Linked DNA regions of Homo sapiens. The protein of the gene in region 1 purifies or fractionates together with the protein of each later gene. This does not show direct contact. Each region holds a gene or a part of one and is shown on either strand. Other genes may lie near its edges. The genes, in order: FAHD2A and BOLA3.

Region 1 (17,423 bases):
CAACACCTATGGCAAGGGATCTCTAAGCTGTTATCCCATGTTAGTAGCCAGAGCCAGCCAAAGGTGGGTGAAGGGAAAGGCAGTGTCAGGGAGCAAGGAGGCTGACTGCTTCCTAGTGTCAGGGACAGCTGGCACCGTGTGTTGGTGAGTGGGGTCAGAACTAGGAGAGGCAGGAGCTGGGGCCTCTGCTGCACTCTGGACTGGGAGCCCACCCTTTCCACCTCACCTTGATGTGCTTGCCTTTCTTTCCAATGACCACGGCCAGCTCCACTTCCCAATCTACCTCCTGTAGGGTGGGAGAGGAACAGTGAGCTGCAGTGGCTTCAGGGCCCACTGTCCATGCTGAGAGGCTGCACACCATGCTGAAGGGCCTCAACCTTTGTCAGTATGGCTTCGCTGCCATCCCATGTTTGCCATCACCACGAACCAGAGCCCAGTGAATGACAAGGGAGGTGTGACTTGTAGACCCATACATTTTGGGCAGTGGCAGACAGCATCATGGGATGCAGGCACAGGTCCCCACACCACTGACTGCAGAAGAGCAACACGTGTCCAGGGCACTGAGTTTAAAAGTCACTCTGGATACTTTTAACAAAGGATAAATACGAAGTAATATCCCCTAGCAATATGTAACCCTACTGTGTGTCAGGCACTGTTCTAAGTGTTTTAATCTATTAACTCCCACAAAGGACTTGAGTAAGCAATTCACAAAAAGGTAACGGACATGGCCACAAAACATGAAGAAATGCTCAGCCTCTCCCATAATCCATAAAATACACTATAAAATAGATATAATTTGGCCTTTAAAATTGGTGGCTCTTTCTAATAATAACCAGAGTTGGTGTAAGTACACCCGACATCCAGATGTTGGTCTCTAATACCACTCCCCACTAAGGAGCACTGGGTTCCTTGGGGAAACGGCCAATTCCAGTTCCAAGACAGACAGTACATGATAAGCCTAGAACATCTTGGCCAGAAAGCTAGGATATACTAAAAGTGACGGGAATGGAGCCAACTTGAAGGCCCCTCACTGGCCAAACTGAGGTCACCTAAAGAATGTAAATGATGAATTACAAACAATTGAGTAAAAACAGAATTCACAGTGATATTGAAGACAGGAATAAAAAGGAGGGAGGCAGCTTTTCTTCATAGAAGAATGCCAGCCAATAAAAACAGAAGGCATGATTGAGAAGTCATTGATCTTGTCTGGGAGTGGTGGGTCACGTCTGTAATCCCAGCACTGTGGGAGGCCAAGTCAGGTGGATCACCTCAGGTGAGGAGTTCAAGACCAGCCTAGCCAACATGATGAAACCCCGTCTCTACTAAACATACAAAAATTAGCCAGGTGTGGTGGTACACGCCTATAATCCCAGCTACTCAGGAGGCTGAGGCAGGAGAATCACTTGAACCCAGGAGGCAGAGGTGTGCTGAAATTATGCCACTGCACTCCATCTGCACAATAGAGTGAGACTCTGTCTCAAAAAAAAAAAAGGTCATTGTTCTCTAACCCCCAGTGCAATAATAGATTCAGTCAGGATGACCACAGGATCCCTGGATGAGATGCTATGGGGCAATAAGATAGTTATGTGATCTCAAACTACCACCCATGGATTGCTTATTACAAAAATAGAAATGCATCTTCACAATGGAGGGACCTAGTGAATGTCAGCTAAACCAAGTGGTCAAATTCTGGGACCACTGACATGAGCCTCCCAGTGGGATACGATGGAAAATGTATAACATCTGCTTTGTAGATCTCTTGATAAAAATGCTTACCCTGACACTAATCATGAAGAAACAACCAGACAAACCCAGAATGTGAAACATGCTATGAGACAACTGGATTCTTCAAGGAAAGGGCAGGGGGTATTGTTTGAGAGCAGGAGTTGGCAAACTATGGCCAGCTCAACATCTGCTATAATCAACTTTGATTGGAAACCCATCATTCATTTCTGTATCGTGGTTTTCACACTATAACAGCAGAGTTGAATTGTTGCAAAACAGAACATATGACACGCAAAGCCTAATATTTACTAATTGGCCCTTGATATGGTTTAGCTCTGTGTCCCCACCCAAATCTCAACTTGTAGCTCCCATAATTCTAACGTGCTATGGGACGGACCCGGTGGGAGATGACTGAATCATGGGGGCAGGTCTTTCCCGTGCTGTTCTCATGATAGTGAATGGGTCTCATGAGATCTGATAGTTTTAAAAATGGGAGTTTCTCTGCACAAGCTCTTTTCTGCCTGCTGCTATCCACCTAAGATGTGACTTGCTCCTCCTTGCCTTCTGCCATGATTGTGAGGCTTCCCTAGCCACGTGGAACTGTAAGTCCAATTAAACCTCTTTTTTTTGTAAATTGCTCAGTCTCGGATATGTCTTTATCAGCAGCATGAAAACAGACTAATACAGCCCTTTAAGAAAAAGTCTATGGAACCCTGTCCTAGATTGAAACCACTAAAGAGATATAACTGAATACAGTGTGTGGCCTTGGTTGATCATGGAGCAACAAACGAAGTAACCAAATTAGAAGTTATCTTTGGGGAAGTCAGCAGTACTTCCGATTGGGAATTGGGGCAATTGGATTTCATATTAAATATTATTCAAGTTAATTTTTTTGGTTGTGATAATGGTGGGATGGTCATGCAAGCCATTGTCCTTATTCTTAGAAGATGCCTATTTACGTTTTTATGACTAAATTGTCTTAATATTTCCAATGTGTTTTAAAAGGTCCCCTCCACCCCATACCCTGCAAAAAAAAAAAAAAAAAAAAAAAATGTGTGTTTGCCATGTGGAGGGCAGGGAGAAGACAAGGGAGAAAAAGGATATATGGCCAAATGTTTACAATGAAACCAGGTGGAAAAGTTATCTGAGTGTTCACTGTATTATTTTCCCAGCTTTTCTATAATTTTCAAGACATTTCTAAAATAAAAATCTGAGAGAAAAAGTAACCAGTGTTAGAAAGGGTATATACACTACTGGTGGATGTGTAAGTTGCTTTTACAATTTTTTAAAAGGCCAATTGGCAGAATTTTTCAAAAATTTTGAAATACTGCCTATACGCTGACATATTTAAATTCCAAAGGGTTTATTCAAAGGAAATAATAATGTATTAATGGACATGCAAAGCCTTTTCCACATAAGGATGTTTACTGCAACATTTATTTATAGAAGCCAAAAACTAGAAACAGTATCCAGCAGTAAGGTACTCAGGAATAAACTAATCTACATAACAAACTCCGTGGTGTCAGGGCGAATACTTAATGGCATGAAAAAATGCTCCTGATGGAGTCTTAAGTAAAAGGTAAGTATATGTACAGTATAAACATATACAGGAGCGGAGAAACACTGGGAAGGTAGACAGAAAAACATTAATATTCCGAGCCATGGGCAGTGGGATTATGGGTGACATAATTTTTTAATGTTTATCTCTATTTTATTATCTACAGTGAAGGTGCATTGCTTTTGTAACCAGGAAAACACGTACATTAACTTTTTTTTTCCAAGGCCAGTGTTACTACTGTGTGTACAATCCTGTAGAGTTTCTGCTGAATGCGCTATTGAGCGAGAGGTGGCTCCAGTAGGCTCAATACTGAGCTCAGAATGCCCTTGTGATGGGCCCAGTGACTAGGGAGGGCAGTGGGGAGACACTGACCTGGCTCTGTGGTGGGAGGACCACCTCATCATAGGGCCCCACGATGGAGCTGGCAAACTTGCTGAAGATGATGGGCTCCTTGGGCACGGGCACGTTCTGTTCTTTGCAGTGGTCCACATAATTCATGCCCACACACACCACCTTATCTGGTCGTGTGACTGGAGCCAGGAAGGTTACCTCCGACCGTGGTAGGACTGGCAACTGGGCAGCCAGGGCTCTGTAGAGACCAGAGCAGGTGAGAGGGTCTGGCTGGGAACAGGTGGGCAATCCCGGGCAGGCTGGGCAGATCCTGCAGCAGCTACAGGTTTTGCTTTTTGAAATCTATTTCCTAGCTCTATCAACCATCAGAGTCAGTGTGAAAATCACTGACTATTGTCCTTTGCTATCAGAGCAGGGCTTTTATTTATCCAGTGTTGATTTCCTCTCCCCCTTAGGTAACTCATGTCCATGTAAAAGATACAAACTGGAATACATGGAAAGGTTTCCCTTTCCCCTTCCGGTTACCCCGTTCCCCTGGCTCTTCGCAGCTACTCTATGGATATTCTTCTCCCACCCTTTTGTATGCAAATGATAGCATACTATTTACATCTTTTAAAAAAACAACTGATTTTGGAGATCTCTGCTTAACAATATGTAACAATACATAGAGAGTGTCCTCTTTATTTCTTGTGGCTGCATATTACTGCTCTATAGAGATATACCCAAGTCCCTAATGAGGGGCATGGAGATTTCCAGTCTTTGCAGAATATGGCAATATGGGAACATACTGTTAATACTGTGAGCTGTGAAACATTTGTATTTTTTTCCATTTTAATAGATGAAAATGACATCTTAAAGTATTTTTAATTTATTGTTCATCAGCTCCTTAGACCAGATTCTATAGGGGTCCAGGCTTCAGGGACACTCTCACCTAATCTAGTCCAAACCCAGGAACCAAGTGTCTTATAGAAAACCTCCTTGCAGTCCTCTCTCCTTGTAGGAGCTGGGAGTCTATATCACTCCCCCAGCTGCATAAGATGCCTTTTAGGACCCCCGGGCCCAGACCCGTCAGTCAGTCCAGGACTTCATTCCCAGAGGAGGCAGTGTGATGAAGTATAGAGTCCTGGTTCCAGCACCACATGTATGGCCTTCAAATTGTTAATCACCTCCCCTAGCTCTCAGTTTTCTCCTCTGAAAACTGAAGATGTTATTATGTAAGATTTCTAAGGATCTTTTAAGAGAACGGGAGAAAAGGAAAGGTGGGGTTACTCTGCTCCCTTGCAAAAGAGCTACCTGCTGGTGCTGTTTCCCAGAGCGGGGAGGGTGCAGGGGGACCAGGGCAGCTGCTTCAGGGCGATGCTGCCCACTTACTTACCTTCTTGCCACTGAGAGGGTGGCCTCTCCCTGCTCTAGGAACTGCGTCATCGTCTTCGGGAGTGTGGGGTCAAAGGCATTGAGGTTGATAACCCCTCCACCATTCCCTGTCTCCAGGCCCAAGTGAGGCCCCACCAGGTGGGGTGCCCGGAACTGCACTAGTCTCATGTCTCTGGAGGGTTGAAAGGGCCACTTCTGAGCCTGCAGCAGAACTGTGAGTAACCTTCTTCTACCAGACACCAGCATCAGAGCCTGCAGAGAAAAATGCAGGATCCAGGAGACAGAGGATCCCAGAGCCATCATCAGGTTCCCTGAAATTCCTAGGGCTATAGCCCGAGGCCCTTTGCCCCATCAACCGTTCCCTGCATACCACACGGGAAGTGGTCCAGGCTTGTATTTTACCTGCTATACTTCATAAGGTGAAACTTTTCTAGAGGAGCAACTACTACATGCTACGCAGTAAGTCCCAGGGATTCCAGCGTTCCTTCAACCAGTGCTTTCTGAAAGTTCCCACTGTGCTTGGCTCTGCTGTAGGTATTGGGGAAACAATGTAGGTGAAACTCAGCCCTGCCATTCTCCCTGCACAGGTCACAGATGTTAACAACTGACGTAAGATTCAGCTATCAGGACTAATGCTGTGAAGATGGTCAGGGGCTCTACCCTTCTCTAGTTTCTGGAGGAAGTGATGTGAGCTGAGCTGGGCTAAATGAGCAGGACCAGGAATTAGCTGGGTGGCAGCCCAGCATGGGCAAGTGACGCTGGTGAAACTGGCTTCACAGTGGCCATAAACAATTTTTTAAATGCTATTTTGGTCCTGTTAACCTCCTACTTAAAATGGTTTCCACTGCTCACATGATCAAGCTAGAACCTCTACCAGGCTGTCCCAGTCTTCTAGGAGCAGCGCCCCCACCTGCCTCTCCAGATAATAATTATTTCGTTTCTCCTGATAGAGAACAAGTTGCCTGAGGGAAGAGGCTGCAGACAAACAACAGGGTCTGGGCCTGACAGCCATCACTTGTCATCTCCCTGGGTCCAGGGCACATGTCTGTCTCTTTCACTGCCCAGCACTGTGCCTGGTGCACAGAAGGCTCTCAGTGACTTTCTGCTGAATGAACAAATAAGTGACAGAAGCAGGGGCTTGACATTTCACTACTTGGGAAAGCTTAGTGCTTGTTAACTTCAGGAGACATGGCTGTGCCTTCCCACAAGGGCCAGTTGTAGTGGCTCATGCGTGATATCCCTAACAATTTGGGAGGCCGAGGTGGGTGGATCACTTGAGGTCAGGAGTTCAAGACCAGCCTGGCCAACGTGGTGAAACCCCGTTTCCACTAAAAATACAAAAAACTCGCCGAGTGTGGTGGCAGCCACCTGTAATCCCAGCTACTAGGGAGGCTGAGACACGAGAATCGCTTGAACCCAGGGGAAGGAGGTTGCAGTGAGCTGAGATCGCGCCACTGCACTCCAGCCTGGGTGACAGACGAAGACTCCATCTCAATTAAAAAAAAAAAAATCCTCAGGGCTCAGATCCTGTTTTGAGTCCAAGGCTCCACTTAAAGACAAACACTATTCTCTTGTTTTGTTCTTAATCCACGTCTGGCCTCTATTCCTTACCACATGGTGCCTTCCCTGAATGGTTCCTTGCTCTTACAACAAAGGCGGTATTGTACAGCCTTCTATGCCCAAAAATGTGGAGGCAGCTGATCCCCAGACTCTTGGTCCTCACCTGGAGATTCAATCTGCCTTGTTCAGTTGAAGATTCATTAGACTTAGGTCACCACTGTTGTGGCCCACCAGTTTGACTAGAAAACCGAGGGCTTTGACTTCTCTGCCCTGCTGTCTTACACAAGCACCAACTGTGCCACTGTCAAAAGGCTGTTCGAGCCAATGTGCACACACTCAGACACTCCACATGCTAACATAACAGTAACTGCTGCCGCTGAATGCCAACTATTAAGTGCTCTACCTACAATGTCTGATTTAATTCTCGACAATTGTGGAAGGTAGGTACTGTTAGCCTCATTTTACAGATGAAACAATTAAGGCTTAAAGAGGTTAAGAGATTTGCCCAAGGTTACACAGTCCTAGAGCTAGGAGAGGAAGGAGCTGGGATGTGAATCCAAGTCCAGGTGACATGAAGTCCTTGGTTCAGAAGCTTGTAATGCAAGCAAAAAAATCCAGCTTCAGCCCCCATCCCCCTACCAAGGCCATTTTAACCCAGAATGTTGTGGTGAGAAGTGGGGACCTTCCATAGGAAATCCTCCAAAGTCTCTAAAGATTGTAGTGAGAAGTAGGGACCTCCCACAGGAGATCCTCCAGAGGCCGTAACTGCTAACAGACATGCGTGGGGAAACTACAGGCGCCCTCTGGCTGTTGCCTCAGGGACGAGGCTGGTTACCAGCTCTCCAAGAGAACCCCAGGCCCCACTGACTGTTCCCTTCCCACATGACACACACATGCAGGTTCATTCCAACCTTACAGCAATCTCCTCAGGTAGAGCGCCCTCACTTTAAAGAAGAGGACACTGAGACTCAAAGGGATGATGTCAGGTGCCCAAGGTACTAGTCAGAAAGTGGCCCTGGGGCTTCTGCAACAACCACTATATCACACAGCCCGAGCTCAATCCAACTCTGCAAGAGTCCATAAGCAAAGGGGCGGCGACATGAGGTGGAAACAGTAGCCTCCATCAAACAAAGCCTGAGACATGGGTGTGCACGTCGGATTCCATCCCACCGTCCACTCGCCTGGAACCCGTGCCGGTCCCCCAGTTTCCCCATATGCCCAGCTCCAGCCCCGACAGTTAGTGAGTGCTCACACAGGTCCGCCCCGTCTGTGTGGTCAGAAGCGGCTGGGGATCCGGTACTAGTTCTGCGCTCCGCGGGAGACCGGCGCCACGGACACCCTTCTGGCCTAGACCCAGCCAGGCTCGTCCTACCTGGCCGCGGCGGCCGATCTTCCTGCGCTGTAGGGTTAGAGCTCGCGGGGCCGAAGGTCAAGGGCGGCGGGCGCCTGAGCACTGCCACCAGTGACCGCAGCCAGCCGGGGAAATGCAGCAGCTGCTAACCCAGGGCCACTCGGCCGGATCACCCGAGAGAAAAGCGGGCGCGATCCTGTGACGTCACAGGCAATGGCCACTAGCAGGGCGCCAATCCCGGAGGGGCGGGCCCATCGTGGGGCGGGCGGCTCCGGCGGGTCTTCAGGCTACGGGTTCAGCCAGGCGCCAGCCGCGTTCTCTGGAGACGCTCTCTCTCGGAGGGACCCTGCACTTGCCTGAACTCGAGAGTGGGCGCTGCCCGAAGGTTTGTCCCTGGGCGCTTCGCTGGCCTCATCCGGTCTCGGCCTTGTTCTGGGCCTGGCGCCTTTCCCATTGTTGGGGAAAGTGGTCTAGGAGACCAAGGCAGCGTGCTGGGTGGCAGAGAATGATTTGTGGCTTCTGATTCTGACATATGTCGTTGAGGAGGGGAGGGATGACTGCCCCCGTTTTACTTATGGAGAACCTGGGGCCAGAGCTGTTTTCCCAGGGTGACACAGGCGGTGAGTAGTGGAGCTGGCATTCCTGACCCCAAAGCGCAGCGTTTCCCAGCCACTCTCCGCAGCCAGGCCTTCACCTGCACTGCTGGGCGCAGGTGGGGAAGTGGGGAAACGGGACTCCATCCCCTGCAGAGGGCAGGCGTGTAGGGAGTGGCAGCTGAACTCCACAGACAGCTACTGCTCAGCTCTTCAGCTGCCGACTTTGAACAGTGTGAGGGGCTCTGTACAAGTGGCCCCCACATTACTCAAGGACCAGATCATCAAGAGCTTTACTTGTCCCACGAAGGAGTCTGGACCTTGTTTACGTGCACAGGAGACCGCTGGAAGGTTCTCAGTGGCGTGCCATGTCCCGACTTCTATTTGAGAAGTTTTTCTCTGGCCACCCGTCTGAGGAAAGGTGTCTGGGTGGGTGGTGCGGTTGAGAACAATGGTGGTGCGGTGCGTGGTGGAGAAGGTGAGTGTCCAGAGATGTTCAGGAGGAAGAACTGACAGCTCTGAATGACAGGAGGTGGAAGTGAGAAGGAAGGAGGTACAAGGCCAACTCCTGGGTCTCTAGCTCGGTAGGTGCAGGGCCGTTCATGGAGACAGGGCTCCTGGAGGAGCAGCGGGTCTGGGGAGAGGATGGTGAGCTCCGATTTGCATGGGACATCCAAAGGGCATTGAACGGTGGGCAGTTGGAGACATGGGTCTGGAGCTTGGGACTTCAGCCTAGCTTGCAGAAGGTCACCACAGATATTGAAATGGAACCTATGGGGGTGGCTGTGATCAGGGGGATTCGCTGAGGAGAACCTGGCACAAGGGTTTCACTAAGCCATAGCTCCCAAAGACTTTCTGAAAAGCTAAGTTACAGCCTGGAAGAAAATATCTGTAAAGGCTATATTTGATAAAAAGACTTGTATCCAGAATATAGAAAGAATGCTTAAAAGTCAGTAGATAAAATCAAACAATTCAATTTTTTAGATGGACAAAATATTTGAACTGACATTTCATCAAATAAGATATACAGACAGAAAATTGGGACATGAAGGCTGGGCGCAGTGGCTCACGCCTGCAATCCCAGCATTTTGGGAGGCCGAGGCAGGCGGATCACAAGGTCAGGAGATCGAGACCATCCTGGCTAACACAGTTAAACCCCATCTCTACTAAAAATACAAAAAATTAGCCGAGCGTGGTGGTGGGCGCCTGTAGTCCTAGCTACTGGGGAGGCTGAGGCAGAAGAGTGGCGGGAACCCGGGAGGTGGAGCTTGCAGTGAGCCGAGATCGTGCCACTGCACTCCAGCCTGGGCGACAAAGCAAGACTCTGTCTCAAAAAAAAAAAGAAAGAAAAAATTAGGACATGAAAAGATGCTCAACATCATTAATCATTAAGGATATGCAAATTGCAAGCGCAATGTGACACCATCTCACACCTACTAGAATGGACAAAGAAGACTGATTATACCAAGTACTGGCAAGAATGTGGAGGACCTGGGATTCTTGTACACTGCTGATGGGATTATAAAATAGTACCACCACGATCGAAAACCATTTGTCAGTGTATGAAGAGAATTAAACATACACCTACCATATGATGTAGCCATTTCAATCCTGACTATTGACAGTATTGAATTTTACCTTAGCCCTTTGCTTCTAGAAATAGTGAAGGTTAAGGAATCCCACCACTCTTTTGTTCCAGAAAACCCCCTACTGGAAAGAACCAGTGACTTTCTATATAACCTGGATAAGACTCCCAGATGCTCCCTTGTTTATCTGTGACCAGGCCAGACACAGACCCTCTAAATTCCCATTCTTGGCCTCATAAATGATTAGCTGGGCTGCTTGTCCCACAGATCAATAAGAACAAAAGCCTGTAACCAAACCTTGGTTCAGATTCTCTCCTTTTCCAAGCCCTTGAGCTTTGGCCCACCCACAGCTTGTGCCAACCCGCAGCCCTCCTGAGGTTCCCTCCTGAGAACAGGCTGTCCGCAGGGTAAGACCTCCTCGATCGTGACACTCTTGCTCAGCCCACTTTCCCATAACAGTTCTTTCTAGCCACGTTTACGCCTCCCTATACAAGATCAGCCCTTTGCCTAACCTCTGAGACACTTGCAGATCATATGGGAAGCCTGCGAGTGGCCGCACTGCAACGTTTCCCTATTGCAATGGTCACCCCCACAACAATCCTTTGGAATAAATTCGCTCCTTATATAATCCAGATTTGTTTTTTTGTTTTATAGTAATTACCTGAGAAATTTAAAAAAAATGCTTATGCAATGGCTTATACAGAAATGTTCACAGCAGCCTTTTTACAAAATCCCCAAACTGGAAACAACTCAATTTTTCATTAACAGGTGAATGTGTAAACACTCTGTTATAGCCACACTAGGGAATACTACCCAGCAATGAAAAGGGACAAATTGTTGATGCAACATGGATATATATCAAGATAATTATTCAGAGTGAAAAAGAGATTAAAAATGAGTACATATGGAATTATTTCATTTGTATAGAGTATCCTTGGGGGGTACTTTCCAAGACCCCTAGAGGACGCCTGAAACTGCAGATAGTACCAAACCCTACATCTGCTACGTCTTTTCCTATATATACATGCCAGTGATCAAATTTAATCCAGATGAAGTTAACCTGGTGCTACACGGTTGCTGTTCAATCAGAATATGTTTCTGTTCACGTCTTCCACCCACAAATCTAATGCCTTTTCCATCCTAACTAAGTGCTTCTCACACACTGTAGCCATAACTTTTGCAGTTTGAGGTGCGACAGCAAAACTGGCACAAATTTCTTTTTCCTTCTTCACAATTTCATGGATAGAAGATTCGTTCTTTCTGTAGCTCTTAGCAACCTCATTATGTGATTTTTGTTTTATTTCCTTAAGTCAGGAGCGTTCCCATAAAGGAAGGCTTCTCTTTGGCATATCGGAAATGCCGACACCACTCCCCTTTTGCTCTGGGGCCATTATGAAGTCAGATGATGGTGCCTTGCACAGAAGCACTGCGGTACCACGACAGTGGATCTAATCACGGAGCCAGCTCATTGGTGACTAAGGGGCAAGGAGGGCAGACGTCATGGAAAAGCTGAACAGAGGAATGATTCTTGTCCCAGGTAGGATGGAGCAGGACAGTGCAGGATTTCATCACAGTACACAGAGCAGCACACAATTTAAAACTTATGAATTGCTTATTGCTGCAATTTTCCAGTTAATATTTTTGGGCCATGGATGACCTTGAGTAACTGAAATTTCAGAAAGCAAAACCATGGATAAGAAGGGACTACAGGCCAGGCGTGGTGGCTCACACCTGAATTCCCAGCACTTTGGGAGGCCAAGGCGGGTGGATCACGAGGTCAAGAGATCGAGACCATCCTGGCTAACACGGTGAAACCCTGTCTCTACTAAATATACAAAAAGTTAGCCAAGCGTGGTGGCGGGCACCTGTGGTCCCCGCTACTTGGGAGGCTGAGGCAGGAGAATGGCGTGAACCCAGGAGGTGGAGCTTGCAGTGAGCCGAGATTGCGCCACTGCACTCCACCCTGGGCAACAGAGCGAGACTCCATCTCAAAAAAAAAAAAAAAAAAAAGAAGGGGCTACAGTACACTAGAAATGCAAATGAATGTGTAGTGACAGGAAACAGGCCAGTGGTTGTTTGGGTGTAGACACCTCCTTGGAGAAACTGCTTGTACCTAGGACAAGAGATGGTGGAGAGCTGGACAAATCCAGGGTTGTAAAACAGAGATCATAAGACTGATGGAATGGAGTCTTTGTGGCTTATAAATTATGAAATTATAAATAAGACTAAGGCCATGCCAGGCAAAAGTCACATACCCCTACACTAAAATAATAAATGTTCTAACTTACCAATTGTCAGATGCTAACTGATGCCCCCAGACTCCAGACTCCATTCCACAAAGCATAACTACAGGTTTGATTGAACAAGAGACTGACTTCAGTAATTTTCTCCTGATAAGACACCACTGACCATGGGCTGGTTCTGGCCAGTTTATAGAGGCTGCGCACTGAGTACCTTTGTGTTCTTTTTTTTTTAAGGCAGACCTGGCTCTGTTGCCCAGGCTGGAGTACAGTGGCATGATGCTGACTCACTGCAACCTCTGCCTCCTGGGCTCAAGCCATCCTCCCACCTTGGCCTCCCAAGTAGCTGGGACCACAGGCACACACCACTGCACCTGGCTAATGTTCTTCTACCTTTTGACCTATAGAGCCTAATTTTAGGCATTTAATGTTATGTTTCCACCCCAAAGTGAACATGGGTTGTATGCAACACACAGGATTATTCAGTTGCATGTGTTAGGATCCCCTCATAAATATTCATAAGGGTCTCATAACTTACTGAATATGTATGTATAGTTCCTGTCTTTGGGCATACACCTCAGCCTCTCCGCTTTTTCCTCTGAAGTGCCTGCTTTTGGTTTCTGCTAAAGGCCACGTTTCCCCACCTGTGGGATGTCCATCCTGCAGGTGGCAACCCTTTCTAAGAGATAAAGCTCTCCTGGCTAAATTTCTACATTTTGTGACTTTTTCCATTGACAATGTGGCTGAATAATCAAAGGGGAAATAAAAGCTTTTGAACCCTGCTTTCTCTATGGCCACCCTTATGATGTGGGTTGGTTTTGCCATGAATTCTTTGTCACTGCCTCAATGCACGCCCAGCCCCACAGGCGGCTTGCTCCTCTCTCTGCCTCACCCTCGCTCTGGTTGGTAACTCGCATGTTTAACAGAGAAAACAGAAGCCCTCACTTGGGGTGAATGCCCTCCATTTCCTACTCCCATGCCCTCAGACCCTCCACACCGGCACCTGCCATGTGCTAGCCCCGCTGATGAGGAACGACCCCTTTCCAGGCCTCAAGTCCTGTGCAGGAGCCCCTGCACCTTGGTTGCCTTACACTGAGAATTACCCCGTATTCCTCTTGAGCAGGGCTCTGCCTCTTCTGCACGTCCTTCCCCCATGCTCAGATCTCTCTATCTTAAACAAAACCAAGCAAAACTCTTCTTTGGCCCCACTTCCCTCCAGCTGCCCCTCCCACATCGCTCACCAACCTTCCTTGGAAAGTCTCCTACAGGAGCTTAATTCCCATATGAATCTTCGCTTTGATTTCCTTGTCTCCCATTCATTCCTCATTCATCCTGATCTGACCTTTGCCCCCATCCTTCCACTGAAACAAGTCTTACTTAAGTCCCCAGTGATTTCCATGGTGCTAAGACCAAAAGACACTTTTGTTGTTGTTGTTGTTGTTGAGATGGAGTCTCGCTCTGTCACCCAGGCTGGAGTGCAGTGGCGCGATCTCAGCTCACTGCAACCTCCGCCTCTGGGTTCAAGCGATTCTCCTGCCTCAGCCTCCTAAGTAGCTGGGACTACAGGGGCACCCACCACCATGCCCGGCTCAAAAGACACTTTTTATCATTACCTCTAAGCACTCTTGGCCTCTCTGGGCCATTTCCCTGTGCTTTAAATACTGCCTTCCCATGGCTTCCCAGCAGAGGTGACTGGTTGCCCTCCAGTATTCTTTCTTTCCCTCTTCCTCAGCAGTAAAACACCATTTATTTGCTAGATATGTGGCTGCATAGAATAGAGAGATTCATTTCTCAGTCATGCTTTGAGGCTACATGAGACCATGAGAGTTAGTCTGGTTAGCAAGATCTAAATAGAAAAGTTTGGGAGTTAAAGGAATTATTTAAAAAGAATCCGCAGTCCCTTACTCTTCACCCTTCTTTCTTTCTGCTGGCTGAAATGTGAATGTGATGGCTGGAGCATGAAGGGCCATCTCTGGCCTTGAGGTGACAGGTTACCGGAGCTAGGAGCTGGATCCCTGAGGATTGTTGAGCTGCCAAACCAATGCCAAACAATGCTCTGTTGGCCTTTTATGCAAGAGAGAAAAAACAAATCTATGGTTTTAAAAGCTACTATTATTCTGGATCCCTGTTACTTGCAGCCAAACATAGTCTCTATTGATAGGTCTTCCATCATATCACATTGTCTTGAATTTTCCTCCTCTATCTCAGTCATTTTTCAGACTCACTCTCCTCCATCCAACCTATAAATGTTGCTGCCTCTCAAAGCACGGTACTTATGTCTCTTCTCACTCAGTAGGATCCCTCAGGCCACATTTTCACAACATCAACTACAGGCTTGATGGTTTAGTTGCCACGTACAGAAAGAAGACTCACATGTGTCCATCTCCATAAACTCAGCTGTTTATTGGACACTTTCATTTTGATGTCTCAAAGGCACCACAAGCTCAACATGAACTCATGATTTTTCCACATCAAATGTGGTCCTCTTCTGTATCTCAGAGGATGTCATGGCATCCTCTGACCATCCACCTGGGCAGACCCCAAGCCAGAATTCAGTCTTTGCCGTTTCCCCACGTCATTCCCATTTGCATCTTCACATCCTGGCAACTTTACCTCCCCACATCATCTGAACCAATAGACTTCCCACCATCCAGGCCAAGACGCTATTTGACCCTGCTGGCTGCACTCCCACTATGGCCTCTGTGGTGATTTAAAAACATGTCCTCAAATTATTTGACATGTCTTCCATGTCCATTGCCTTTATTGCGGGCGGAACCTAGCAATTCACTTCTGACAAGTAGAGTATGGGGGAAGGACCCTGCATTCCTTCCACAGCTAGCCTGTCAGCCTGCTTGGCTGCTGCAAAAAGTACCATAGCCTGGGGGGCTTAAACAGCAGCAATTTGTCACCTCAGTTCTGGAGGCCAGGAGTCTGAGATCATAGTGTCGGTGGGCTGGGTTCTTCTGAGGCCTTTCTCCTTGGCTTACAGGTGGCTGTCTCCTGGCTGCCTCTGCACATGGTTGTCCCTCTGTGCACACATGGCACTTGTGTCTCTTTATGTGTCCTAATTTCCTCTCCTTATAAGGATGCCAATCAGGTTGGATTAGTGCCCACCCTAGAGCCCTCATTTTAATTGCATTACCTCTTTAAAGGCGCTATCACCAAATCCAGTCACATTCTGAGGTACTGGGGTTAGGACTTCAACATGTGGATGAGGAGAGGGCACAATCCAGTTCATCACAACTAGGTTCTAATCAGTGACCCAGCTGCCTCCTGGCTCTCAGGACAGTGCATCAGTCTAGGTCTGATCAGGAGAGAGAAATCACACAGGGATTGGAACAGACTGAGTTTAATACAGGGAAGTAGCAACTATGACAGGGGATTGGAGCCATGAGGGATAGGCTGGTAACAAGTAAAGAGAACTCTAAGGACTAAGGAAGAACTAGATATAAGGAGCAGCCAAGTTGGGCGTGGTGTTTTATGCCTGTAATACCAGCCCTTTGCAGGCCAAGGCAGGAAGATCTCGTGGGCCCAGGAGTTTGAGACCAGCCTGGGCGACATAGTGAGACCCTGTCTCTACAATAAAAAATAAAAAAATTAGCCAGCCATGGTGGTGTGCATCTGTGGTTGCAGCTACTCAGAAGGCTGAGCTGGGAGGATTACTTGAGGCAGGGAGATTGAGGCTGCAGTGAGCCATGATCACGCCACTGTACTCCAGCCTGGGGTACAGAGGGAGACCCTGTCTCAAAAAAAAAAAAAAAAAAAGCAGCCAAACTCCTAAGATACAAGGAAGCACCCAAGGAAGAAGCTCCCACCCCACAGACCATGAGAGCCAGATCTCGCTGGAGACGGCAGACAGGATGCTGTAGTTTTACACTGGTGAAACTCGCTGGAATCTTGCATCTATTGTAGCAACCATATTTCCCTTGGAACCAAATTTTCCCCTTGGTCATCAGGACCCATCGCTGCAGCCACTGGATCGACCCATCGCTGCAGCCACTGGATCAACCCTCTTGTTTTGCCTGTTGATTCAGTGGCATAAGGAACCCAACATGACCAGGAAGCAGTCTTAACTTCTCTGTCTCCTGGGGGAAGCACTGTCCCTTTGAGTACTAATATCTCCAAGCCAGCAGAGCTCAAAGTGGCCAGGACAAGAAACAAAACTGCTGTAAGTGAGGTTATTAGATGTACTCGTGAGAGAAGCACTCCCGCTTCTTATAGTCCATAGACGATGCTGGGCAGGGAAGTTGAAACCCTCTAGAATATGTGTCCTATCGGGGAAAACCTCTGCCTCTTCCATGATGGAGGAGGTCCAGTGTAATCAACCTGACACCAGGTGGCTGGCCAGTTTCCATGGGGAATGGTGCCATAGCAGGGACTTGACATTGGTCTCTGTTGTTGGCTGACTGAGTCTGAGCAGTAGCGTCAGCCAGGTCCACCTTGAGAAGGGGAAATCCACATAGTTGAGACCATGCATAGACCCCATTCCTGCCACCATACTTTCCGCCATCTCTTACTCCAGACAGCCAAATATACTGCTTAAAGTTCTATCTAATGGGAGGACTTCCTTCACCACTGCCCTTCAGAGTCATCCCTGAGTGGGGCTGCCATGTGCAGTTTGTCACTTTTGGGTGGTATAGGCCGATTGTACAGATCCATTAGTAAGTCTTGCTTGAGTTTCTTCTTCCTCAGTAAACTGATCCTAAAGAACATGCAGAAAGCCATAGGCAGGGATGGAGGGAGAGGAAGCAATGCAACTGAACTTGCCATCAAAAGAACCTGAGCCACCTGCTCCTGCAGCTTAGCTATCCCCTCCCCACTGCCTGAGCTCCAGCTCTTATCTGCCACTACCACTTGATGGCACGTCCAGCTTATGACTAGGTGGGTCAGACAATACAGATTGTTTTAGGAAGCTCAGGCCATGTGGTCGCCTGACAGCCCATGGTTAGGTTTTCAGTCTTTACCAAAGCCCAACAGCAAAGCAAGAGGCTGTTTCTCAAAATAAGAGTGATTGTCTCCAGGAGACGGTTTAGACTGGCTCCACAATCCTAGCAGTCCAGCTGTGATGGTTCTATTAGTGCCTTC
Region 2 (11,433 bases), about 21 Mb from region 1:
CCCCTTTCTGAACCATCCTTTGCTTCAGCTCATACCATTCTTTCTCTTAACTTTCATTTTCCTTCTCCCCTGGTTCTGAACCTGCCTGCCCTGTGCATGAAGAGAAGTTCTTCCACTGCGGTGACTTTCAGCGTGGACAGTGATCATCTGGGGATGTCAGTTGATTGTTCCACTAAAGGCCGCTGCCCACAGATCCGCTAAGATGAAAGGCTTCTCCCAAGGATTCTGCAACGCTCACCTCTCTCACCCCTTAGTAGCTGCCGATTCTGTCTGCCATCTGGTTACTCTCTGCCTTTACCCTCAAGATTCTGCCCCCAGAAGCAGCTCCACCCCACCCTCACTCCTGGCAATCCTGTCCAGCCTCTCAACATCGAGTTTCTGTCCCTCCACACAGCAGGCAGACAATCACACTCTGGACCTTTCTCCTGTCTTGCATTTCTGTCCCTAATTGACTAGTTCTTCCCCTGCTCATTCATTCATCCAGCACCAAGTGCCTCTGAGGGCCTGCCCTGGGGTCAGCTCTGGGATGCTGCCGGACTCATTCCTGGCCTATAAGACCAGTGGTGAGAGAGCCAGTGCACAGCTCATTTTAAAGGAGGTGCTCTGAGATTCTGTGACACAGGACCCTGCTCTGAGCTATCAGGAAGGACTGAGGGGTAGAGGGGTGGGACCTTCAGCACCAGCACCCATGAACGGCCCTAGTGTCCTCCAACCTGTCATCCACGTCTAGTCAGGGACCAGTGCCCGGTGCTTCCATCATTGTAATGCCTCTTACTTGGGCATCTCTCCTGACTCGCTCCAGAAGGCACTGTTTCCTGCAGGTTACTTTGGTCCCATGAGCCTGGGTTCTATCACCTGGAGTCCCATCTCCTGTCCCATACAGTCCACAATCTTTAGCCTGGCATTCAAGGCCTGCCACACTCCATTCCCAGTCTGCCTTTTCAGCATGCACTCAGCCCAGCCAAGTGACTGCCGACCTGCTTTTCTGCTCCTTCACTACTAACTGTTGAGACGTGTTCCATCAGAAACATGGGCTCCCCTGGCCGGGCGTGGTGGCTCATGCCTGTAATCCTAGAATTTTGGGAGGTTGAGGTGGGTGGATCACCTGAGGTCAGGGGTTTGAGACCAGCCTGGCCAACATGGTGAAACCTCATCTCTACTAAAAATACAAAAATTTGCCGAGCGTGGTGGTGGGTGCCTGGAATCCCAGCTACTCAGGAGGCTGGGGCAGGAGAATCGCTTGAACCCGGGAGGTGGAAGTTGCAGTGAGCTGAGATTGTGCCACTGCACTCCAGCCTGGGTAACAGAGCAAAACTCTGTCTCAAAAAAAAAAAAAAAGGAAACACAAACACAGGTTCCCCCATGGTAGCCATTGGGGAAGGGGTGTTGTTGCCAATGGTAAACAACCTACAGATACTCCTTCTTCAGGTTCTTTCATAGAATTCTGACTTTGCTCCCAGTGAGAAGGAGTGCATGATGAAGGATAGCTGGCTAATTGAGCAGTGGGCTGTGAGGTCACATCCCACTGGGGAGGGCGAGACATGTTAATCAGGCCTAAAGGCGAGGGAGTGTGGAATTTGGCCCCACCATCCAGGGCAGTGGATGGCCTAGTGGTATGGATCTGAGGCAGGCTATCCAGCTTTTCTGGCTCTGTATCTTACCGAATTCAACCTTGGGCACATTACTGTGTGCCTCAGTTTCCTTACCTATAAAACTATCGGCATAATAGTGTCACAACATTATATGGAAGCAAACATCTCTTGAATTAGGTTTGGGGCCTCTTGTCTCTGGAGTCAAATTGAGTTATTAACAATCATCCTGTCCCCGCCAATAAAAGTTTATTCTGTGTTTTGGGGCACTTACATGGACTCCTGATACCACAGAGCCCCTCTGACATAACCCATGGCTGTGCTGGCGAGGGCTCAGGGGCCTGCCTTGCAGGGGGAATGGCAGGCGGGCCTGCACAGTGGCCCAGCTCAGGGGCAACAGCATCTTCCTCTGCCCTGACCTTCCTCTCTGTTCTGTGGCAGCTTCCACTTCACCATCGGATGTTTGCCACTCAGACTGAGGGGGAGCTCAGAGTGACCCAAATTCTCAAAGAAAAGTTTCCACGAGCTACAGCTATAAAAGTCACTGACATTTCAGGTAAGGTTTCTCTCACTCTTCCTACGGCGCTTGGATAAGATTTTGCCCTTTGGAAGGACAGAGGGTCAGGGGCTTGGAGGAGGGGGCTTGCTGCTGGTGAGTGGCTTCTCAAGATGTGTTGCTGCTGGACAGGTGGAGCTCGGCTGCCCCCACCTCATGGGATGGCAGTCAGGATTCAGAAATATCAGAGGGAAACTGAGGACAAGGCGCAGCTGGGAGGACTCAAGGTTGCCAGCCTGGCTCAGCTCAGACAAGGTCCCTCTCAGTCACCCTAGAGCTGAGGTCCACAGTCTGTCATTTGACTTTGAATAGGTTTTGCTCTAATTTTCCCCCATTCTTCTGACACCCTAGGATATCAGAGCTGGAGTGGACCCCAGAAAGATTTTCTTCAGCTGCTTTACTTTCCCTAAGAGGAAATGAGCCCAGAGAGGCCAAAGGAATTGCCTAGCTCCTCATAGGGAAGAGACAGTGGAACTGGAACCAGAACCGGGACTCAGGGGAGACTCTGTCCTAAGCCCAGTTACCAGCCCCAGCCAAGCGCTGTCCTTCTCAGGTGGCCACTGGCACCTAGAAGTTCAGGCTGGCAGTGTGTTAGGAGCAGGCTGGAGAAGCAACTTCTGCATCCACAGGATGGGGAAGATAGGCCCTTTATCCACACACACACACACACGTACACACAGAACGGCCCGTGGCGTGGGCCGCTGGATAGGCATCAGTCTGAATCTCTCCATACCCAGAGGCAGCCTTTGCCACTCAGCATTGCCATGAGGGCTCACTGACTTTACTGAGAACATAACATTTCCAAGGATTGAGGAGAAAGTTTAGAAAGTAGATTTTATTCTGGAAACCACAGGAAATAAATCAATCTAAAGATCTGCTGGGGTTTTGGAGCAGTGGCTCATGCCTGTAATCCCAGCACTTTGAGAGGCTGAGGCAGGTGGATCACGAGGTCAGGAGTTCAAGACCAGCCTGGCCAACATGGTGAAACCCCCCCGTCTCTACTAAAAATACAAAAATTAACTGGGCGTGGTGGCACACGCCTGTAGTCCCAGCTACTCAAGAGTCTGAGGCAGGAGACTTGCTTGAACCCGGGAGGCGGAGGCTGCAGTGAGCCAAGATCATGCCACTGCACTCCAGCCTGGGTGACAGAGCGAGACTGTGTCTCAAAAAAAAAAAAAAAAAATCTGCTGGGGCCAGGCGCGGTGGCTCATGTCTGTAATCCCAGCACTTTGGGAGGCTGAGGCAGGTGGATCACCTGAGGTCAGGAGTTCGAGACCAGCCTGGCCAACATGGTGAAACCCCATCTCAACCAGAAATACAAAAAAAAAAAAAAAATTAGCCAGGCATGGTAGCAGGCACCTGTAATCCCAGCTACTCAGGAGGCTGAGGCAGGAGAATCGCTTGAACCTGGGAGGCAGAGGTTGCAGTGAGCTGAGATTGCACCACTGCACTCCAGCCTGGGCGACAAGAGCGAAACTCTGTCTCAAAAAGAAAAAAAAAATCTGCTGGAATGGTACATCAGGTGAGGGCTCTGCAGGAGTCTTGGGGCAATGCTGAGGCCTTGATGTTACCAGGTCCTGAACTTGCCCCAGGCCCAGGGCAGAGTTAGAGCTTGACTCAGCTGTGGCTCTGCGCAGTCCTGGACAGAGTGCAGAAGGGGAGTTGAGGCTGAGAACCTGGGTTTAACCAAAACTTGGACTCCTAGAGCACATTATAAGAAAAACAGAACAGGCCAGGCGCGGTGGCTCACGCCTGTAATCCCAGCACTTTGGGAGGCCGAGGCGGGTGGATCACGAGGTCAGGAGATCGAGACCATCCTGGCTAACACGGTGAAACCCCGTCTCTACTAAAAATACAAAAAAAAAATTAGCTGGGCATGATGGTGTGTGCCTATAGTCCCAGCTACTCAGGAGGCTGAGGCAGGAGAATGGTGTGAACCTGGGAGGCGGAGCTTGCAGTGAGCCCAGATCGTGCCACTGCACTCCAGCCTGGGCGACAGAGCGAGACTCCATCTCAAAAAAAAAAAGAAGCAGAGCAAAGCCTGTTGAGTACGTTGCACCTCTCACACAATGGCCTGGCTCTGTAAATCATGCAGGGGACATATTCTTGCCCATGTTATTTCATGCTAGAGCTGTGTGTTTATCATCAGTCATCAGCACCAGCTCTCCAGCCAGGTGGAGGAAAGCTCAGGCAGGGGGTGGATGGCCCACCAAGCTCTGCCTCGAGGGCTTCACCAAAAAGTTCTCCCCCCAAAAGCCAGGATGAAATCCTGGATGCTGTGCTGTGGACCCAGCAGTGCCAGAGACAGCCCCGAGCAGCTCCATGCATAGCATGTTTGCTGTGTCCCTGGCTCTCATGCTCCCCTGGTTCTTTCCTTTCTTTGGACAGTATTACACAGTTTTCAAACCAAATTGTAGTGTATTTTTGCACTTCAAAAACACTGATTGTTGGTCCTTTGGAAGCTGGAACGCTGAAATTCCGTCCTTCTCATCCTCTTCCGTGGCGTTTATTGGCCTAGTGAAAGGAAACACTCTACACTCCCTAGGTTGTCCATGCTTTGTGCCTTATCTTTCCTGCCCACAAGTGGTAACCCTGGGTGGTGCAGCTGCCTCGCAAAAGGAAGAGCACATTTTGGATTGTGGCAGCCTGTCAGGAGGAGCATGTGGTCAGATTGGAAGCCATGATCTTTTCCTAATGGTCTTAGCAACTTTCCTTTGTGCTGAATGATAATATTCAGACCTTTGGATTGTACAGTACTTCAAGGATATATGGGACCATGGCTGCCATGACTTAATAATTGAAATGCTTTTGAATCATGTTTATTTTAGGAGGTTGTGGGGCGATGTATGAAATTAAAATTGAATCAGAAGAATTTAAGGAGAAGAGAACTGTCCAGCAGCACCAGATGGTTAATCAGGTCAGTAGAGGCAACAGTGCCCCTTGCCACTGGCCTTCAGCCTCCAAAGGGGCCTGCCAAGCAGGGATGGTGGTTTTTGCCGTCAGTTGCAGGAGAGAATAATGCAGTACTGCAATCACGAAACAGGACTCAAGACCTGAGAAAAATCGAATCTGGGAGTATCTGCATTGTGGCAAATAGGAATTTTATTCAAAATTGAAGACAGGCCTCCCAATAGTGATTTTGTATGTCCTCGTATAATGCTACCTATGTTTACTGTTATTGTCACATATTGATGAGTATATCTAAACACAGACACTGCTAAAAGATACATGTTTTTGTAGATCTGAAGAGGGGTTTTTTGGCCTCTCTTTGGGACTGCTTTACAGATGAGTCAGTTGATGCATGGCATGAGTGAGAATGGCTGCAGCTGCCCCAGACCCAATGACAGAACATTTGGGTTCTGGAACATCACGTTCAACCAGCCTAAGGCTCAGTTTAAATATTATCCATATTTATTTTAATTTGGAATTTATACCAACTTTGACCCTTGTACCTGTACCTATGAATTTGCCCCCTCACTGGGTGTGTTTGGCATCGTTCTGGAAGGTCTTGCCATTGTGAACTAGTGTTATTTTTGTAAAGCACAGCACTGGTAATGAGCGTCTCTTCGGTGGCCTCTCATGCATTGAGTTCAGGTGTCCTAGACTGCTGTTCACGCATTTCCCCCCACCCTTCTCTGCGTGCACCCTCCCAGCCGGCCTCTGCCCGCTGGTCTCTCTCTTTCTCTATCTGGGCCTTTGCCCAGATTGGACCTTCTGCCTGGGTTGCCCTTCCTCCCGTCCTCCACTCAGCTCAAATGCTGCCTCCCCTCCCTCCCCAGCAGGGAATGAATGCCGTTCCCCCACCCTCCCCGGCCCCCTTTTTTGGCTGTCGGTGTTTTCCGTCTTGTGTCCTGAAAACGGACATCTCTGCTGTCTGACCCTGCAACCTGTCAGCCCTTTGTGGACCAGTGCCCTTTGGGATCCATCTTTGTGTTTCTCATGGAACGTAGCCCTTTGCAGTGGATGTGACCCCTACAGCCCTAAGGCATGCTGGTGGTCTGCTGGGTGCTCCATCACTGAGCCCTCCCGGAAACTCTTGCAGTCCCATGTGATCTCTGGGGTCAGAATCAAGGCAGAAGACAAGACAGGGAAGACCTGGCTGGCCAGATGATCCCCAACCCGTGGCACTTTGGGTTTTATTCTCAGATCTGTACAAGCCACCTGGTGTGACTGGACCCATAGGTGCTGGTAATTTGAGTGTGTCCCTTGGCCTGAAACCACAGTTACAAGTGGTTAAGGAAGCAGTTTCTGGAATTGGACTTCCCACTTTCAAATCTGGGCTTTGCTACTTTCTAGCCATGTGACCTTGAGCAAGTTTTTCAACCTCACCCTTTGCCTCAGTTTCCTAATTGAGAGTAACAGTACTTGCTTCAAAGTGTTGCTGTGAGGATTCGTGATAAAGTACACGTTGACCACTGACAACACTGCCCGACACATAGTAAGCCTTCCATAAATGTGACCGCCATCACCATCATTGTCATCTCCAACACTGGAAGGAACCTGCACCAGTCTGGGGTGGGGAAGGGCTGTGATTCCCACAGTTTGGGGGAGTGTCACCTCACGGTCTTGGGATTAAGGTGTCTTCTGGCCCCCTATAGCAACATGTGCCTCTCCTCACACTTCCTGAGTAGACAGCCCAGTCACTTGTCTTTCATTCCCCCTCGAAAGCAGGCTTACTGCAGGACGGGGCTGTGTCCCCCACACCTAACAAAGGACCTGGCACATGGAAGGAGCCCAGTCAGTATTTCTTGAGAGTTTGCAGAGAGTGAGGAGAGTTGGCTTGTGTTTTCTTATTGGCTTACCCATGGAAATTATGTTTTAGTATCTGAAAGGCATTCTGTTTTGGAGAACTCACATCCTGACATTGGGGCACTTTTTAAAAATATATACTTCTTTTTTTTCCCTCCCACAGAGTATCACTCTGTCACCCAGGCTGGAGTGCAGTGGCGCTATCTCGGCTCACTGCAACCTCTGCCTCCTGGGTTCAAGCAATTCTTCTGCCTCAGCCTCCCAAGTAGCTGGGACTACAGGCGCCCGCCACCACACCTGGCTAATTTTAGTATTTTTAGTAGAGATGGGGTTTCACCATGTTGGCCAGGCTGGTCTCGAACTCCTGACTTCAGGTGATCCACCTGCCTCGGCCTCCCAAAGTGCTGGGATTACAGGCATGAGCCACCATGCCCAACCTTAAAAATATACATTTTTATATTTATATAGAGATGGGGTTCCACTATGCTGCCCAGGCTGGTCTTGAACTCCTTGACGATCCTCCTGCCTCGGCCTCCCTAAGTGTTGGGATTACAGGCGTGAGCCACTGTGCCCAGAGCAGCTGCATCCTGAGTTATTCTAGAGGCCTCTCCTCTGCCCCCAGCCAGAACAGCCCTTCTGGCTCAGGACTTGGGGGGGTCATGCAGCTCCACACTGGATGTCTGCAGGCAGCTGACATGAGGGGGTCCCCTGAGCCTGGCCACAGTACATTCTTAGGGGGCTGACACTTGTGTTAAAATATATGGACTTGGTCATAGGCAATTTTAGATGATTTAAGTCTGGAGATGTTGGCTTTGACAGTCGCATGAGAAGAATGAAAATGAAAATCTTCAGGAACAAGTCTGTTGGCCGGCAGGGTCTGAGCCGGGACCTGGAGCTGCCCTGCTCAGGACAGCTGTTGGGAATGGGGTTCTGACAGGCACTGCCCTAGGAGGAGGCAGAGACCTGGAATCAAGGGGAAGGCAAGGTGGTAACTGGACTCCACTCCCAGGGCCAGCTGGTCTCTTCAGGAGTGAGGTGGGGGTGGGGTAGGTGCCCCATCCAGATGCTCTCATGCCCAGGCTGTTTGGGTGGGGGCCTGGTGTCCTGACGGGGTGAAGCTTGCCTCATCTATTTTGCCTACTCACCCTATGCGTAGTAGTGTTCATCCTGGTGCTGTAGAGTCAGAATTTTCTGCCCAAAAGGCCTGAAAAGGTCGCCCAACCCATCCGATACTGGCATCCCTCCTGAGCTTCCCATCAGACTGTCCCTGCGGGATTCCCTGGAGGGGGCGCCCCCTGTCGGCACCCTCAGGAATGGACTCGTTCCTCTGGGACCCTGCTGCGCGGGGCTCAGCCTCTCCCAGGGCCCAGTGCGTCAGCCTTCTCTTGGGAAATACTTACTGGGCATTTGCTGTGGGCCACGCCCTAGGAGGCCTAGATGTTGAGGGTTTTGTACCAGGAGCACCTCCCTACCTGTCCTCCTGCCATCCTGGGGAGGTGTCAGCAAGGGTAGAGTAGGTAGGTAGCCACGGTGATCACTGAGTTGCCTTTTGAGGTGGACAGAGGTGAGATTTGAGCCTCATATTGGCAAATATTGCATGAGGCATTGACCACAGGTGCCCAGCGTCGTGCCTGCCACGTGGAAGGCAGTTGCTAAACAGCTGTTGCCGTCTCCCTGCCTCCGGCCTCTTTCCAGCTTAGGGGATTGCCCTCCCCTAAGGCGCCTCCACCAATGTCTTTCCCCTGCTCAGAGCCTTTACGTGGCTCCCCTGGTTGCCCAGAATCCAGTCCAGTCTTCCTAGCCTGGGATTGCCCATTCTTCATGTGATCTGCCTCAGTCTCCCTGACATGTGCCTACCTCAGTGAATCACGGGAGCTTCCCAGCCTCTCCTCACTTTGCTGTCCTGGGGCAGATGCCCTCTCACTCTTGCCTGCTCCACCTCTGGCTCCAGCTCCAGGGCTGCCTCCTGTGTGTGGCCCTTGTGCGTCCACCCCAGTCACCAGTGCAGTAGCTCACCTCGAACACCGGAAGCAGGGCTGTGCTGGCTTGAGTCTGGCAGTCCTCTGCTGCCCACATTCAGCCCATTTGTGTTGGACTTAATGCTACTTTCTCTTTCATTACTTTCCCACGCCTTTTCCTCTGTGTCCCCAGCACCTACTATAGTGCTGTGGGCATAGCAGGTGCTTAAGAATGGTTATCCAAGCTGCATCTTATTACCCATGGGACTTCGGCCAAGTCACTTCCCCCAGCAGGGCCCCAGTTTCCTTAACTGTAGAGTGACTCAGGTGATCTCTAAGACCCTGTGTGGCTGTAAGGGACTGTAGTGTGTTTTGGGAAGCCCTCAGGGGCTGCACAGAGAGCAGGGAGAAGGCATCAGGGAGGGGGAGTGCGCAGGGCCTGAGTGGGTGAAGCCCAGAAGGTTCCTCTGTCCAGGGTCAGTCACATGAAGGTGTGACTGGGCCCTCACCCAGCCAAGGTGGATGTAAGGAGGAGAGGCTGGTTGTGGTCCAGGCACAGACACAGTCTCTAGGGAGCATTCCACGCCTGCAGAGAGCAAGTGGCCCAGGGACCTTCGCCCAGTGATTATATGAGGCTTTTTCCAGGGACATTTCTGCCTGTCCGCAGAGTTGAGGGCCCTGCACTTGATTGTGGAGCTGGAGGGTGTGCAGTGTAGGCCAAGTGGGGCAGCTCATTGTCCCCCAACACAACAGGAGCTCCCGGATCAGGGCAAGTCAGGAACATGATGGAAACCAGGTATGGCCAGGACCTCAGGATACCTGGGTTCATATCCTGATTCCATTACTCGCTTGTTTGCTGACTTTGGACAAGGAGTAGACTCTATTTTTTTTTTTTAATTAAATAAGGGGATGGGACTAGATTGTGTCTAAGGATCTATAAACCTGACCACATATATTAGGATTCTTTATATTGTAAGAGACAGAGACCAAATTAAAATTAGCATAAGCAAACAAAGGGAATTAATTGGCCCATGTAACAAAATTATCTGGTTTCTGGCATATCTAGATTCCTCTCTCTCTCTGAGCTTTCAGCTTCTTTCCCTGTGTTGGTCTCCTTTTCTCCTGCTAAAGATGGGCTTTCTCTCCTTGGTGGGAAACACAGTCCATGGCCACCTCCAATTAATTTCATAGCATGTTGGCCCAAGAAACAAGGCTCCACTCTCAGAAATCCCAAGGGAGATTCTAAGTGGCCCAATTTGGGTCATGTGCCACCTCGGTCCAATCATAGGCTGGGCCAGTGGCACATAATGACCTCAATATCAGACCAATTGGTGGTTCCACCAGAATTATACAATAGAGTGGAAAAGGAATTATTCCCCAAGAGAAGGAGATCACTAAAGAGACTAGAAAAGAAAAATGTCCACTCTAGTATGATTATCAGATTTTGGCCTAGTATAAAAGGACCTTATTTCTTCCTCTGTACTGATTATAAACTTGAGCGGTCCAAGCCCCACTCTGATTCTGTAACCTCACTTTCTCCCAGCACTACAGGGGCCAAATATCTATTTGACTCTGGTAGTTCCTTCAGATTTGGGCTCTGACACCATTTGTAGCCTTAAAACAAGTCCCATAATTCCTTTGAAACTTTATTTCCTGCTCTGACCATTGGGGAATTTGTGCTAATTGGTATGATTTTAAAGAACTGCTCATTTTAAAGAATGCTTGATGCTCGAAATAACAAAACACAGGAAACAGCCTAAAAGTTCGCTAGGGGACAGGTTGAAAAGTTATAATGCATTCATATAATGGAATACTATGCTGATGCAAAAAAGAATCAGGACACCCATATATGCCTAACATAGAAAGATCTCCAAGATAGATGTTTGGGGGAAGAGCAAAGTGTAGAGCAGGGGTGTCCAGTCCTTTGGCTTCCTTGGGCCACAATGGAAGAAGAATTCTCTTGGGCCACACATAAAATATACTAACACTAATGATAGCTGATGAGCTTTAAAAAAAATTTCAAAAAAAATCTCAAAATGTTTTATGAAAGTTTACGAATTTATATTAGGCCACATTCAAAGCTGTCATGGGCCGTGGGTTGGACAAGCTTGGTGTAATGTGTTTGAAATTTTAACCATTTGCGTTTTAAAAGGTCATGGGGTGAAATATATTAGCTTGAATATGCCTGGTGAATATGCATTTTTAAGTCCCTGTAAAGATACACAAGAAACTGGCCAGGTGCAGTGGCTCACGCTTGTAATTCCGGCACTTTGGGAAGCCAAGACAGGCAGATTGCTCCAGTCCAGGAGTTCAAGACCAGCCTAGGCAATATAGTGAGACCCTGCCTCTACAAAAAATAAAAAAATTAGCCAGGCATGGTGGCATGTGCCTGTAGTCCCAGCTACTAGGGAGGCTGAAGCAGGAAGATTGTTTGAGCCCAGGAGGTGGAGTTTGCAGTAAGCCGATATCGCGCCACTGCACTCCAACTTCGGCGCTAGAGCGAGACCATGACTTAAAAAAAAAAAAAAAAAAAGATACACAAGAAACTAACAACAGTTCTTTTGGGAACAAGGGTGGAAAC

What was found.
Region 2: the proteins of FAHD2A (region 1) and BOLA3 purify together in Homo sapiens (affinity purification with mass spectrometry; 3 studies listed by BioGRID and IntAct, with this or other methods). This does not show direct contact.

Annotation. Positions count from the first base shown.
Region 1 is NC_000002.12:95,393,390-95,410,812, reverse strand, and holds the start of FAHD2A (oxaloacetate tautomerase FAHD2A, mitochondrial), read right to left. Parts: upstream 8,106-17,423; 5' UTR 7,941-8,105; exon of another isoform or gene 7,821-7,940; intron 7,814-7,820; exon of another isoform or gene 5,411-7,813; intron 5,261-5,410; 5' UTR 5,255-5,260; coding exon 5,010-5,254; intron 3,873-5,009; coding exon 3,656-3,872; intron 287-3,655; coding exon 227-286; intron 1-226. UniProt on the Homo sapiens protein: Tautomerase that converts enol-oxaloacetate, a strong inhibitor of succinate dehydrogenase, to the physiological keto form of oxaloacetate. It is thereby required to maximize aerobic respiration efficiency by preventing succinate dehydrogenase inhibition.
Region 2 is NC_000002.12:74,135,901-74,147,333, reverse strand, and holds part of BOLA3 (bolA-like protein 3), read left to right. Parts: intron 1-2,030; coding exon 2,031-2,145; intron 2,146-4,973; coding exon 4,974-5,062; intron 5,063-11,433. UniProt on the Homo sapiens protein: Acts as a mitochondrial iron-sulfur (Fe-S) cluster assembly factor that facilitates (Fe-S) cluster insertion into a subset of mitochondrial proteins. Probably acts together with NFU1.